Linked DNA regions of Homo sapiens: regions 2 and 3 are each linked to region 1. The links come from fine-mapping of genetic effects on gene expression. A gene starts in region 1. Each other region holds a variant in brackets. All regions are shown on one strand. Distances are between the middles of the regions. Region 1 holds the start of KLHL42 (kelch like family member 42). Region 2 overlaps MRPS35 (mitochondrial ribosomal protein S35). Region 3 overlaps MRPS35 (mitochondrial ribosomal protein S35).

Region 1 (4,245 bases):
CACCCATGGCCACACAATGTTCCTTTGTTGTTTCAATTACAGTGCATAGAATTTGTTTTAAAATAACACTTCTGATACCAAATTTTAAATATGGTATCATCTCAATGGTGTAAATAATGCATTAAAAATGGGCTGGCAGGAAATATGCCAACCTGGTTACTGCCTCTAGGAAGAGCGGGTAGGAATAATCATCTTTTTGCTTCTTCATTCTTTTCCATTTTCCAGTTTTCTGTAACTATGTATTATCAGGGGAAAAAGCATACTTTTCAAAATGAATTTCATATTATAGGAGAAATAAAGCCAGTTATTTCCCCCAAATAATCCCTGGCCGAGGAGGACCCTCGAGTCAAATAAACAGATATATAAAGGATTCTCTGTTACTGTTAAGACTTTCTTTGCCCAGCTGTGAGCTCCCCAACTCCTTGCTCCACACTTCAGGACCAGGACCCTGTGAGGATTGAGATGGAAACACGTGGATGGGAAGAAAGGGTATTTTCATCCTTTCTTGAGTTACATTGATTCTTTTCCCTGCTTCTGAATGACGCTGAGGCCTCCTAGGCGCTACCATCTTTATTTCCTACCATCTCTTCCTGTATATGCTCTTTGCTCTTGTTTTGATATTCCTTCCCTGGTTCCTTTCCCTTCTCCCCTCTCATCCCACTCCTCAAGCTCCTCCTCTTCCTTTCTTCAAGTCACCCTTGTTGGAGGCAGGAGAGATTTGCAGGATGGGAGGGGGAGAAGGTTGCGTAAATGAAAATATTCCAATTCTGTAGTTGAACACTTCCAGGCTCAAGCTGTGGGTCATGACGATGGCTGTCCAGGGAAGGAAGCAAAAGAGAGGATAAAAAATAAGAAAAGCAACCCCTATTGCAAACGTTAATACATTTCCAGTGATTATCTCTTGATCATGATGGGTATCACAGTGTGGAAGACTCTGTTGTCACAGTCACTGACATCAGAAAAAAATCCCCCAAAGTCAGTGTTACAGGTTACTGTCCAGTGTATCATTATCATCAGGATCAAATCCTAAAAACTAAGACAAATTTTTTAAAAATTAAGGGGCAATTTTCTTTTAAAGTATTCTTGTAGGAAACCACAACATCTTTTTTCACAAGAACAGAGGCAAAGAAAGCAGTTTCACCTAAAGGCACAATACCTGCCAAAAAACCACTCCACTTCTTGACCTCACTGGGGACGTCCTCTTCGCAATTTCTTAGTTCATTGGGAATTTTGCCAGCGCCAAGGCCAACAACATTCCTGAAGATGTCATTTCCACCACAGCACACCCTCCCCTATTTACTGGCTCAGTAAACACTGGGGTAATGAACTAATGAACAAGTGAATGAATGAGAAGGCAGCAGCACTCTGCCGGGGTGCTTACCTCTTCTGGTTCATGGAGGCCACCTGGAGCCACTCGTTGGTGCTGGGGTTGTAGGAATGCGCAGCGGAGATCTCCTGGCTAGTGATCCTGTACCCGCCCACTATGAAGAGGTAGTTGTCCAGGATGGCAGACCCATAGCCCCTGACATTGACCAGGTCGGGAGGAAGGTTGTTGGCCAGCGGGAACCAACGCTCAGTCATCTCCTCGTACCTGAGCATGGACGGGGGCTCCCCCTGGTAGGGGTGAGGGGCCAGGGGTCCCCCCAGGAAGTCCCCGAGGGCCACGAGGACAGGAGTCCCAGTCATCCGGGCCTCCCTCAGCCTCTGCTTCAGGCTGACATCCCCTGGAGCTTGGGGAGGAGACCCCAGGAGGTGGAACTGGGGCTTGCACAGCACCTCGTGGAAGTGGACGACCATGAAGCGCAGGCAGGCCTCCTGCAGGTCGGGCAGCCCGTACACCTGCGCCAGGCGGTACATCTCCAGGCAGTTATTGAGCCGCACCTGGGACAGCAGCAGCTGCAGCAGGGACGTGACCTGCAGGAAGGAGGCCGCCTCCACCAGCTCGGACAGCAGGCTCACCTCATCCATCTCCTCGTCCTCGTCCACCCCGCCGCCCTTTTCCCCGCGCGGGCCCAGGAGCCAGCCTTCGCGGGCCCCGCCGGCGTTGATGAAGTCCAGCACCAGCCGCAGGCCCGGCGCGCTGAGGCCGCGCAGCTGCTGCACCTCCGGGCCGCCGGCCTCCTGGCTCAGGGCCTCGCGCATGCCGGAGCGGTAGAGGGCGCGGAAGTAGTCGCTCTGCTCGATGAGCTTCCTCTTGCTCACCGGGTAGCAGCGGTCCTCCAGGCGGATCTGCACCATCTCCTCGGCCGACATGGCTGGGGGCCCCGGGGCGGCAGCGCTCACCGCCAGATCTGCGCGCCGGCCTCCCAGCCCCTACGCGCGCGCCGGTTCCGGGCGGGGCGCCGAGGGATGGCGGCCCGGGAGGAGCGGCGAGGTGAGGGCCGCCCGCGCTCGCCCGGCCTCTCCGGCGGCCCCTCCTCCCGGGGCCCGCTCCCGCGAGGCGGCGGCCCTGCCCTTCTCCTTTCCCTCAGCGCCAAAAAAGGGCCGGCGGAGCGCGGCGGGCGTCCTCGCGCGGGCTCTCCCGGGCGGCGCCAGGCGGGAAGGGAATTCCAGCTCCCAGCCAGCAGCCTCCTCCCCCGCCGCCCTTCTCACTTCCGCCCGCGGGACCCCAGCCGCCGGCCTGACCTGCCGGCTGGATCCGGCTCTCGGGGAGGCCCGGGAAGCTGCGGGCCCGGGCGCCTCGGCTGCGGACGCGCAGCTGCGGGAGGCGGAGGGCGCGCGTCCCCGCAGCCTCTCCGCCCGCCCGGGGCGCGCCGGCTCCGCCGCTTGTTGGGGGCTGCAGTGATGCTCCGGGGTACCCCAGGGAGAAGAAATTCGTTTTCTCTCCCACGCTGCTTTACACGGGCTAAAGAAAAAGAAATGAGCGTGGGAGGAAAGGGAAGGATGGAGTCTCTGGTCCAGGGAGACAAAAAGGCATCAAATATGGGGTCGTCCTTCTGGCCCAGTCCGGCATCGAGTGTCAGTGGGCTGAGGCACGCAGGCGATCTATGGACAGTTGGTGGCAATGTTGGTGGCACGTAGAGCTGATTCTCTGGTAGCGTGGTCGCGTAGGAGCCATCTTACAGGAGGTCCAGGCAGATGGCAGCAGGTTCTCAGAGGAATCGGGTTGGGAGGCAGGGGAGCTTGCATTTGCCACTGGGGCCCCTTATTCTCCCTAAGTTATTAAAAGAAAGATGAAAGCGCAGCCCGACTAAATAAAGTTACATCACGTGGCTTCTGGTTTTAAACCATGTTTTCTATGAGCCATTGCTTTTCTACTTCAGTCCAGTCCATTACGGAATGTTATCCTGGCGCAAAAGATCTGACAAAATTGGCTCATAAATGTCTGCAAGAAGTAGCTTTTCTTGTCACCCCCTTTCTCCACCTACCCTGCCCCCATCATCTGAGGACTATTAAGAGAGACCACACGTGCGGTTTGGCTGAGCGCGGTGGCTCACGCCTGTAATCCCATGACTTTGGGAAGCCCAGGTGGGCAGATCACGAGGTCAGGAGTTCGAGAGCACCATGGCCAACATGGTGAAACCCCGTCTCTACTAAAAATACAAAAATTAGCCGGGCGTGGTGGCACGCGCCTGTGATCCCAGCTACTCGGGAGGCTGAGGCAGGAGAATTGCTGGAACCCGGGAGGCGGAGGTTGCAGTGAGCCGAGATCGCGCCACTGCACTCCAGCCTGGGCGACAGAGCGAGACGCCGTCTCGGAAAAGAGAGACCACTTGTTTCCTATGTTCTCTCACTGAACATTGCAATTAGAAGGCCCACCCCAAATAATAATAGGAAGGACTTTTTGTCTTGCTAATGAATTCATCCCAGGAAGGGGGTGGGGGGAGAAATATATTGTTTGGATTATCTTTGGGTAGGAGAAGGGAGAAGGATTGGGAGGAAGCAGAGGGTGTGTTCACTCTTATCTTACAAAACAAAAACAGAAAACCTTGAAAACTTACCCCAAACCAAGATTTGAGAACCACCTATGATAAACAGTCCTTAACTTGGAGAGAATATGTGTTTGGTTTTTTTTTTTATTATTACAAGCTTCAGCTTTCTTCTTGAATGACAGATTGTTAAATAATATCTTCTTCATAAGTACATTTCCCCTATTTAAAGAAGATACATCCTACCATGCTAACATTTTACCTTAGGAAGGAGAAAGGGTTAAAAACCAGAGAACTAAAAGAAAGTCAAAGGTGAAACATGAGATCCTTTCAACATAGTTTGGTTACATTTGTGGTTCTTACTACGAAATTTATC
Region 2 (4,245 bases), 52 kb after region 1:
TCATGGCCGGCACAGTGGCTCACTGCCTGTAATCCCAGCACTTTAGGAGGCTGAGGTGAGAGTATCACTTGAGCCCAGGAGTTCCAGACCAGCCCTGGCAACATGGCAAAACCCCCTGGCAACATGGCAAAACCTCATCTCTACAAAAAATACGAAAACTAGCTAGCCGTGGTGGCTTGCGCTTGTAGTCCCAGCTACTGGGGAAACAAAGGTGGGAGGATCACCAGAGCCTGGGAAGGTCGAGGCTGCAGTGAGCCGTGCTTGTGCCACTGCACTCCAGCGTAAGTGACAGAATGAGACACTATCTCAAAAAAACAAACAAAACAAATCATCTTAATAGCCTATACTCTCGATATGATGTGATGAGAATGGCACTTTATTTCTGGGGTTTTTCTCCCCAAACACACAACAAGTTGAAAGACATTCTACCAAATATACAACTAGTACTTCTCAAAACTGTTAAGGTCATCAAAAACAAGTCAAGTCTGAGAAACATCACACCCAAGATAAACCTAAGAAATTATGATGACTAAATGTGATTTGTAAACTGGATGGGATTCTGGAACAGAAAAAGGGTATTAGAAAAAAACTAAGATAATCTGAACAAAGTAGGGACTTTAATAACAATAAATTCAATATTGATTCAGTATCAATATTAATTCACTAGTTGTGACAAACGTACCATAGTATATTTTAAGATGTTTACAACAGGGGAACCTGGGTCTGAAATTCTCTACTATTCTTGGAACCTTTCTGTAAACTAAAAACTATTCTAAAATAAAAAGTTTAATTTTAAAAAGTATATCAGGTAACTGCTCCATGACTGCTGTGTGAAAAAGATATGCCATGTGTACCAAGATTTCTTTGACAAAGGAAACAAACAGTGACTTCAAATACTAAATTAGAAGTTCCTAGGGCAGACACTTGGAAGTGCAATGGCACGTGGCGTGGTCCAGGTGAGTAACAGTAGGGATCTCATGTTTCTCCAAAGCAATATGGCATCCGGACAAATGACCCTAAGTAAAATTCTAGCACAGCAAATCAGCAGTAGAATAAAAGAATGATACACTATGAACTGACCAGGGTTCAGAAATGCATCAGTATATTGAAAACCTATTGATGTAATTTATGACTTCAATAATTCAAAGGAGGTAATTTCATAAATGCTAGTAATCTAAGAATAGGATACACCATTAACATAATAAACACTATTATCTCACTGAAATCCTACCTCATACTTGAGGTTAAACACTAGAGGCACAGACAATTAAAGTATGCAACAGCATAAGGAACTACAGAAATATGACTTCAGAAATTTTATCTAATGCAAAAGACAAAAAGAAAAAACAAGCTATGGTTACTTGAAAAGGGGAATTAAAACTACCATTATTTATCTATTATGTCTTGAGAAATTTCCGAAAGAATCAGCTGAGAAGTCCTAGCATCCAGATCATGGTCTGTAAACACCACTGTCCACTGGCAGGTATTAGGGCTCCTTGAAAAATGGCTGATTCCAGGTCCGGGATAAGAAATTTATAAAAATGAGCCTGAACCATCTTGTGTCAAAATACAAGGAAACTTTCAAATGCTAAAGGATTGTAACAAAAGGACACAGGAACCAACTTAAAAGAGTTCCCACTGGCCAAAGGTAAGATAGATATACTTCGAGGACCAAAAAGAATAATGATTTTACTTGATATCCACCCACAGATTACTTGTTCAAGGGAAAAGCAAAACAAAAATCTTCACAAAGGAATGATTAGGTTGTCAGCTTCTTAGCCAAGTGCTCAATTTCAGCATACTGAGAATGAGGCCACCAGACTTTACGTGCCCCTGATGCAATATAAAATACATAGCAATATCTATAAAGTATTCTTGCCAAACATATTTAACTGGAATCTTATCAGCCCTTTAAATCTAACTTCCAGGTTATGTGAAATACAGGAGATAAAGAAATAAGGTAAATGACATCCAGATGCAATGGGGCAAATTCAGAAGATAGGAAATGTTACAAGATAAATACCCTGTCTCTTTAACAAGTCAAATTCATCAGGAAGAAGGGAGGGAGGTGGGGTTGTTTGCCATTCCAGATAACATAAGATACATCATTACCAAATACAATGGTCTTTGGCGGGATTCTGGTTTCAATAACAGAGCTTAAAAAATACCATTTTGTAAGGCAATAGGGGAAATATAATGTGGAGTAGATATTTTAGATGATATTTGGGAATTACTGACAATTTTGTTACATGTGGTAATAGTATTGGAATTAAATAGGAAACATCTCCTTAATTCTTAGAGATAACACACTGAAGTATTTTAGTGTGAAACATTAGGTGTCAGAAATGTTAAGGTACTTAGATGTGTATGTATGTGTATGAAGCAAATTTGTCAAAATATTAATTACTAAATCAAGATGCCATGTGTATGGGTATTTATTATATTAGCCTCTTTCTACTTGTCCATACATTTGAAAATTTTCATAATAAAAAATTTAAAAAA[G/C]AGAATTTGGTAAAGTAGCCAAATGAAAAGTTAAAAGATAACTATATGACTTTTGACAAGGATGTCAAGACCATTCAATGGGAAAGAATAGTCTTTTCAAAAATGGTATTGGATCAACATGCAAACGGAATGCAAAAGAATGAAGCTGGACCCCAGCTTCACACCATATCCAGTTAGCCCTTTGTCTCCACGGGCTCCACATTTGTGGATTCAACTAACCGTGGATTGGAACGTGGATTGAAAATATTCAGAAAAAATAACAATATAACAATTTTTAAACTGCATATTCTTAAAATACAGTATAACAACTATTTACGTTGTATTAGGCATTATAAGTAATCTAGAAATGACAAAGTATATAGGAGGATGTACTAGGTTATATTCAATATTCAAATACTATGCCATTTTATATCAGGGACTTAGGCATCCACAGATCTATGAATTTACAAGCGTTCCTGGAACCAATCCCAAACAGATACTGAGGAACAACTGTATGATAATTAACAAACAATAGGTCATAGATCTAAATGTAAGAGCTAAAACTATAAAACTTTTAGGAGGAAACACAAGAGTGAATCTTTTATGACCTTGAATAAGACAATGATTTCTTACATATGACACCAAAAGCACAAGAAACAAAAGGAAAAATACTGTCATACGCCACTTAACAATATTTTTTGACAAAGACATGGCTAGGTGATTTTGTCATGTACAAACATCATTATGTATTTACACAATCCTAGGTGGTACAGCCTACTACACACCTAGACTACATGGTATAGTCAATTGCTCCTTGGCTACAAACCTGTGTAGCATGTTACTGTTAAATACTGTAACAACTGTAACAAAATTGTACTTGTGTATTTAAACATATCTAAACATAGAAAAAGTGCAGTGAAAATACAGTATTATAATCTCTTGGGACCACTGTTGTGTATGTGTTTATCACTGACCACAACATCATTATGCAGCACATGACTTACATAAATTGGACTTCATCAAAATTAAAACTTCTGTGCTTAAAAGGCTCACGCCTCTAATCCCAGCATTTTGGGAGGCTGAGGCAGGCAGATCACAAGGTCAGGAGATCGAGACCATCCTGGCTAACACGGTGAAAACCCCATCTCTACTAAAAATACAAAAAATTAGCCAGGCGTGGTGGCGGGTGCCTGTAGTTCTAGCTACTCGGGAGGCTGAGGCAGGAGAATGCTGTGAACCCAGGAGGCGGAGCTTGCAGTGAGCTGAGATCGAGCCACTGCACTCCAGCCTGGGTGACAGAGTGAGACTCCGTCTCAAAAAAAAAAAAAAAAAAGGACATCATCAAGAAAGTAAGAGGACAACCCAAAGAATGGAAGAAAATGTTTACAAATCATATATCTGAGAAGGGACTGGGACTGGTGTCCAGAATATATAAAATACACTTATAACTCAACAATCGAAAGATAAACAACCCAATTAAAAAACAGGCAAAGGATATGAACAGACATTTCTCCAAACATATACAAATAGTCAACAAGCACATGAAAAGATGGTTATTAGGGAGACACAAATCAAAACTACAATGATACTTTCATACCTATCAGAATGGCTAAAACTAAAGGACAGGTAATAACCATTAGTGAGGATGTGGAGAAATAGAAAGCCTCAAACTTGCTGGTGAAATTGTAAAATAGTGAAGCCACTTTGAAATTGTTTTTCAAAAACAGTTTGGCAGTTCCTCAAAATGTTAAATATGGAGGTGCC
Region 3 (4,245 bases), 40 kb after region 1:
CAAAGCAAAACTCAGTCTTCAAAGAGAAAATAAACTTTTAAAATTGTCTAGTAAAACACACACACACAAGCCCCCAAAATAAAATAAAATGAAACAAAAATAGTGAGAAGTACTTTTTCAAATAACTAGTAAAATACTGTATCAGCTCAATGTTGCCCTCTGGTTACAAATCTACATTTTGCAAATAAGCACTACGACGAGCTTCACAGCCTGTCTCTGACTTACTGCTAGCCTCACCTCCTTTCTTGGCCCTGTTAGTTCTATACCCTGGCTACACCAAACTTCTGCCTGCTCTTTAAACCCACAAGGCCTAGAAAGTTCTTCACCCACTCTGTACCACATACTCCTGTTCATCTTCTAAAACCCATCATCATTCCTGTGACGTTTTCAGGGGGAGTTAACCCTTGTCTGTGGCTCTCACAGCACTGTGTTCCTACTTCCATTAAGCTCAACAGATTATATTATAACCAACGGTTTCCCTCCAGAAATCAAGGTACCTAAGGCAGGGGGTCATTCATTTTGATAGTGGCACCTAGCAACATATCTTGTACACAAGAACTAAATAGTTGTTGAATGCAAAAGAGAACAAACATAGCAAACATTGCTCAAGCATTCTCCAGTGGAAATGCAGGTGTGTAGGCATACACAATCAAAATGAACTCATAAATCCGACAGATTAAATGGTGATTATGGCTCTGCAAAAGTATTCATTTTTATCAGAAATATCTGCAATAATGTCCCCTTTAAAACGAACTCTTAGTAAGTATAAAATTCTCCAACTTAGAAATTTTTAATTTTTATTGGGGGTCTTGCTATTTGCCCAAGCTGGACTCGAATTCCTGGGCTCAACAGATCCTCCTGCCCCAGCCTCCAGAGAAACTGGGACTACAGGAATGCAACACTGCTTGGCTAAATTAGAAATTTTTGTTACATGACTTTTCAGAACCATTTTATTACAAAGCTAGACATAGTTCTGACAATAAAACTATCATGAAATCCAAATAAGACAGCCGAAATTTTAAAATGTAAAAAAGCAACCATTAGTAATTCAATATCAAAATCACCCATGAATCTCTGAAATTTGATTTCAGATCTCTAACTTTTCTAAAGCAACTGTTTTTTTTCTCTTCCCCAGTATTTGTGCTCATCTTTTGTGCAAGTCACTTTGCAAACTGACTCATTATTTCTCAACCTAATCATTTACGGAAGGTTTCAATTATTAAAAAATCACTAAAAAGTTAAAATTAAGGAAGTTGTGTTATCATCAATTATGTCAAATTGTGAGTAGGATACACATCCTAAAGAGTATAGATCTGACTTTACTTGTACAAACTCTGCCAAATTAAATATAAGCTGTATATATTAATAGAAATTGGGAAACCATGAATTTAAAATTCTAAGAAAAAAATCTTTCCTCATTTTATTATTGTTAATATCAACATTATTTATAGATGCTTATGGAGAGCCCACTATTTGCCAGACACTTTACACAAATTCTCCCTGATCCATCCAAAAATCCTTAGGAAAAAACTGAACCTCAGAGGTTAAATAGTCGAGGCTATTACACAGGTACTAAGTAATGGCCCTGGAATTCAAATCCATGTCTGTCTGGCTCCAAAGGTTAAAAATTCATTCCAATGCTAACAATACGTAATACTAAAATAGGACACCAAATCTCTACAACTCTCCTTGCTTATTTTTTAATTATTATTATTATTTTTTTTTTGAGACAGAGTCTCACTCTGTCGCCCAGACTGGAGTGCAGTGGTGCGATCTTGGCTCACTGCAACCTCCGACTCC[C/T]GGGTTCAAGCGATTCTTGTGCCTCAGTCTCCCGAGTAGCTGGGACTACAGGCACCCACCACCATGCCTGGCTAATTTTTTGTATTTTTAGTAGAGACGGGGTTTCATCATGTTGCCCAGGGTGGTATCGAACTCCTGAGCTCGGGCAATCCGCCTGCCTTTGCCTCCCAAAGTGCTCCCAGCCTCCTTGCTTCTTTAAACTGCTGAAGGATAAATGAATGGTCCAGTGAATATGTGTCTCTTATCACCTTCCCAGCACTGAAATAATTATTCTTTGAGGCAGTATTAAGCCTTTATGCCTGAAGCTTAGGCTTTGCGATGTCTATGCTTACTGAAATCTACTTTGACACTTCTATAGTTAAACTGTTTTGAATAGTATACAACAGTAATATCCTTCTACTGGAGTCTAGGTGATCACTTCTCCAGAGGGATTTCAGTACTACAAGCTACATAAAATTAGCAGCTACTTTCCCCTCAGTGCTACTTAGAGGTAACCTCTAGGGGAAGGTTAAAAAGCCAAGGGAAGGCAGGGCACAGTGGCTCATGCCTATAATCCAACACTTTGGGAGGCCAAGGTGAATGGATTGCCTGAGCCCAGGAGTTCAAGACCAACCTGGACAACACAGTGAAATCCCATCTCTACAAAAAAAATGCAAAAATTAGCTGGGCATGGTGCCATGCGCCTGTAGTCCCAGCTATTCAGGAGGCTGAGGTGGGAGGGTCACTTGAACGCAGGAGGCCAAGGCTGCAGTGAGCCATGATCATACCACTGCACTCCAGCCTGGACAACAAAGCAAGACCCTGACTCGAAGAAAAAAAAAAAAAAGCCAAAGGAAGCATATATTTGGGTATTAAATGCTCAGAAGCTAGCCTATAAAAAAAATCAAGCAATGGATTAAAAAGAGGCTCTCTATTTGATTAAATAACGGTGATAACATCAATTTCAAGTATGAATTCCATGTTGGTGAGGGAAAATGAATTTCAATTCAATAAAAATTCTTTTCTAGCAGCTCCGCAAAATTTCACGGCTCATCTGTATTCAAAATCTTCTTCACTGATGGTACTTGTTTAGAAAGCACCAAGAAACAACGGTAATATAGAATTCTTCAAGTATACTTGTTTGGACAGTTGTATGTGGCTACTTATCCTGGCATCAAAGTAATCAGCACTAAAGATCAAAGGCTTCTGTGTGAATCCAGAATGCAACCCTGTTTGGATTCTAAGTCACGGAACCACAGAAAGAATCCCATAAATCAACTTCCACTGAATTTATGCCTATCATTTCCTTCTGGGCAAATTCATTCTAATAGATACTGGCAAAATAAGAAAGTCAAAACGGGTTGTATTTATTGTTAGTTATTAAATCTTTAAGCAGCAACAGCCATAAAGCTGTAGCTAATTCAGCCATGTTGCTGGTTCAAAAGAAAACTTAATTATCTTAAGCCAACAGCATTTCTAAAATCAATTGTGTAGGAAAGAGATTAACTGCTATTCTGATGTTGCTCTTAAAGCCAGAACTAGAAAATCCAGATAAATTATAATAATGGAAATAATTGTAAAGAAGAGAAGAGCTTACCAGCTACTTTTTGTCTTTTACTCATCTCACAACCAAGTTTTTTTCTTTCACTTTCCATTCATCCTCTTGTGTGAAAACTCTTTTATCATAATATGAAGGAAAAGCTGTGAGCAGTTTAGAGAACAGCTGCATGTATTCACAGAATCACAGTAACTTGGGCTGAAAGGAGGTTCCAAAGGCCATGGAATTTAACTACCTATTCAAGGAGTATATTTTTTTTGCCTATCTTCACTAAGTGGCCGATGGATGGAATGTTTTCTACCTACTGAAGTAGCTCATTGCATCTTATGATGGCTCTCTCACAAAGTTCCCCTTGGGAGGGCTGGACATGGTGGCTCACAACTGTAATCCCAGCACTTCGGGAGGCCGAGGCGGGTGGATCACCTGAGGTTAGGAGTTCGAGACCAGCCTGGCCAACATGGCAAAACCTTGTCTCTACTAAATATACAAAAATTAGCCAGGCGGTAGTGGTGCATGCCTGTAATCCTGGCTACTCGGGAAGAATAACTTGAGCCTGGGAGGCGGAGGTTGCAGTGAGCCAAGATCGCTCCACTGCACTCCAGCCTGGGCAACAGAGTGAGACTTTAAAAAAAAAAAAAAAAAAGTTCTCAGTAAACCAAAGTCTGTCTCTGTCTTACTATTGTCGCTACCTTGTTGTATCTCTAAGAGTCATTAAAAACAAATGTAAGCCCTCTTCCATATGAAAACTTTTATTTTTTCTATTTTTCTTTACTTCTTTTTCCTTTTTTCACTGTTTCTGTAGACACTGACATATGAAGTCCTTTCTAAAGAACATGACCCCCTTCTCCAGCTAACTTTATTCCTTTGAATGTTCCTAGTATGAAATGCTATTGAGTCCCCTGTGTTGG

What was found. PIP is the estimated chance that this variant, and not a neighbour inherited with it, causes the effect.
Region 2: its variant is the best candidate, but not a certain one, in a credible set for the expression of KLHL42 in aorta (GTEx, PIP 0.72).
Region 3: its variant is the best candidate, but not a certain one, in a credible set for the expression of KLHL42 in whole blood (TOPMed, PIP 0.57).

The regions. Positions count from the first base shown.
Region 1 is chr12:27,778,339-27,782,583 of GRCh38, reverse strand. It overlaps KLHL42 (kelch like family member 42), which reads right to left and starts at 2,351. Exons shown (of 3, transcript NM_020782.2): 1 at 1,382-2,351. The coding sequence starts at 2,253. MANSC4 (MANSC domain containing 4) reads left to right here and starts at 2,348. Exons shown (of 4, transcript NM_001146221.5): 1 at 2,348-2,374. RefSeq lists an enhancer at 1,835-2,334 and silencers at 2,200-2,509, 2,530-2,749.
Region 2 is chr12:27,726,530-27,730,774 of GRCh38, reverse strand. All of the region lies in intron 5 of MRPS35 (mitochondrial ribosomal protein S35), which reads right to left. Among named protein-coding and RNA genes, the nearest start is that of MRPS35, 18 kb to the right of the region's middle. The variant G/C (reference allele first, on the strand shown) is at 2,503.
Region 3 is chr12:27,738,649-27,742,893 of GRCh38, reverse strand. All of the region lies in intron 7 of MRPS35 (mitochondrial ribosomal protein S35), which reads right to left. Among named protein-coding and RNA genes, the nearest start is that of MRPS35, 30 kb to the right of the region's middle. The variant C/T (reference allele first, on the strand shown) is at 1,801.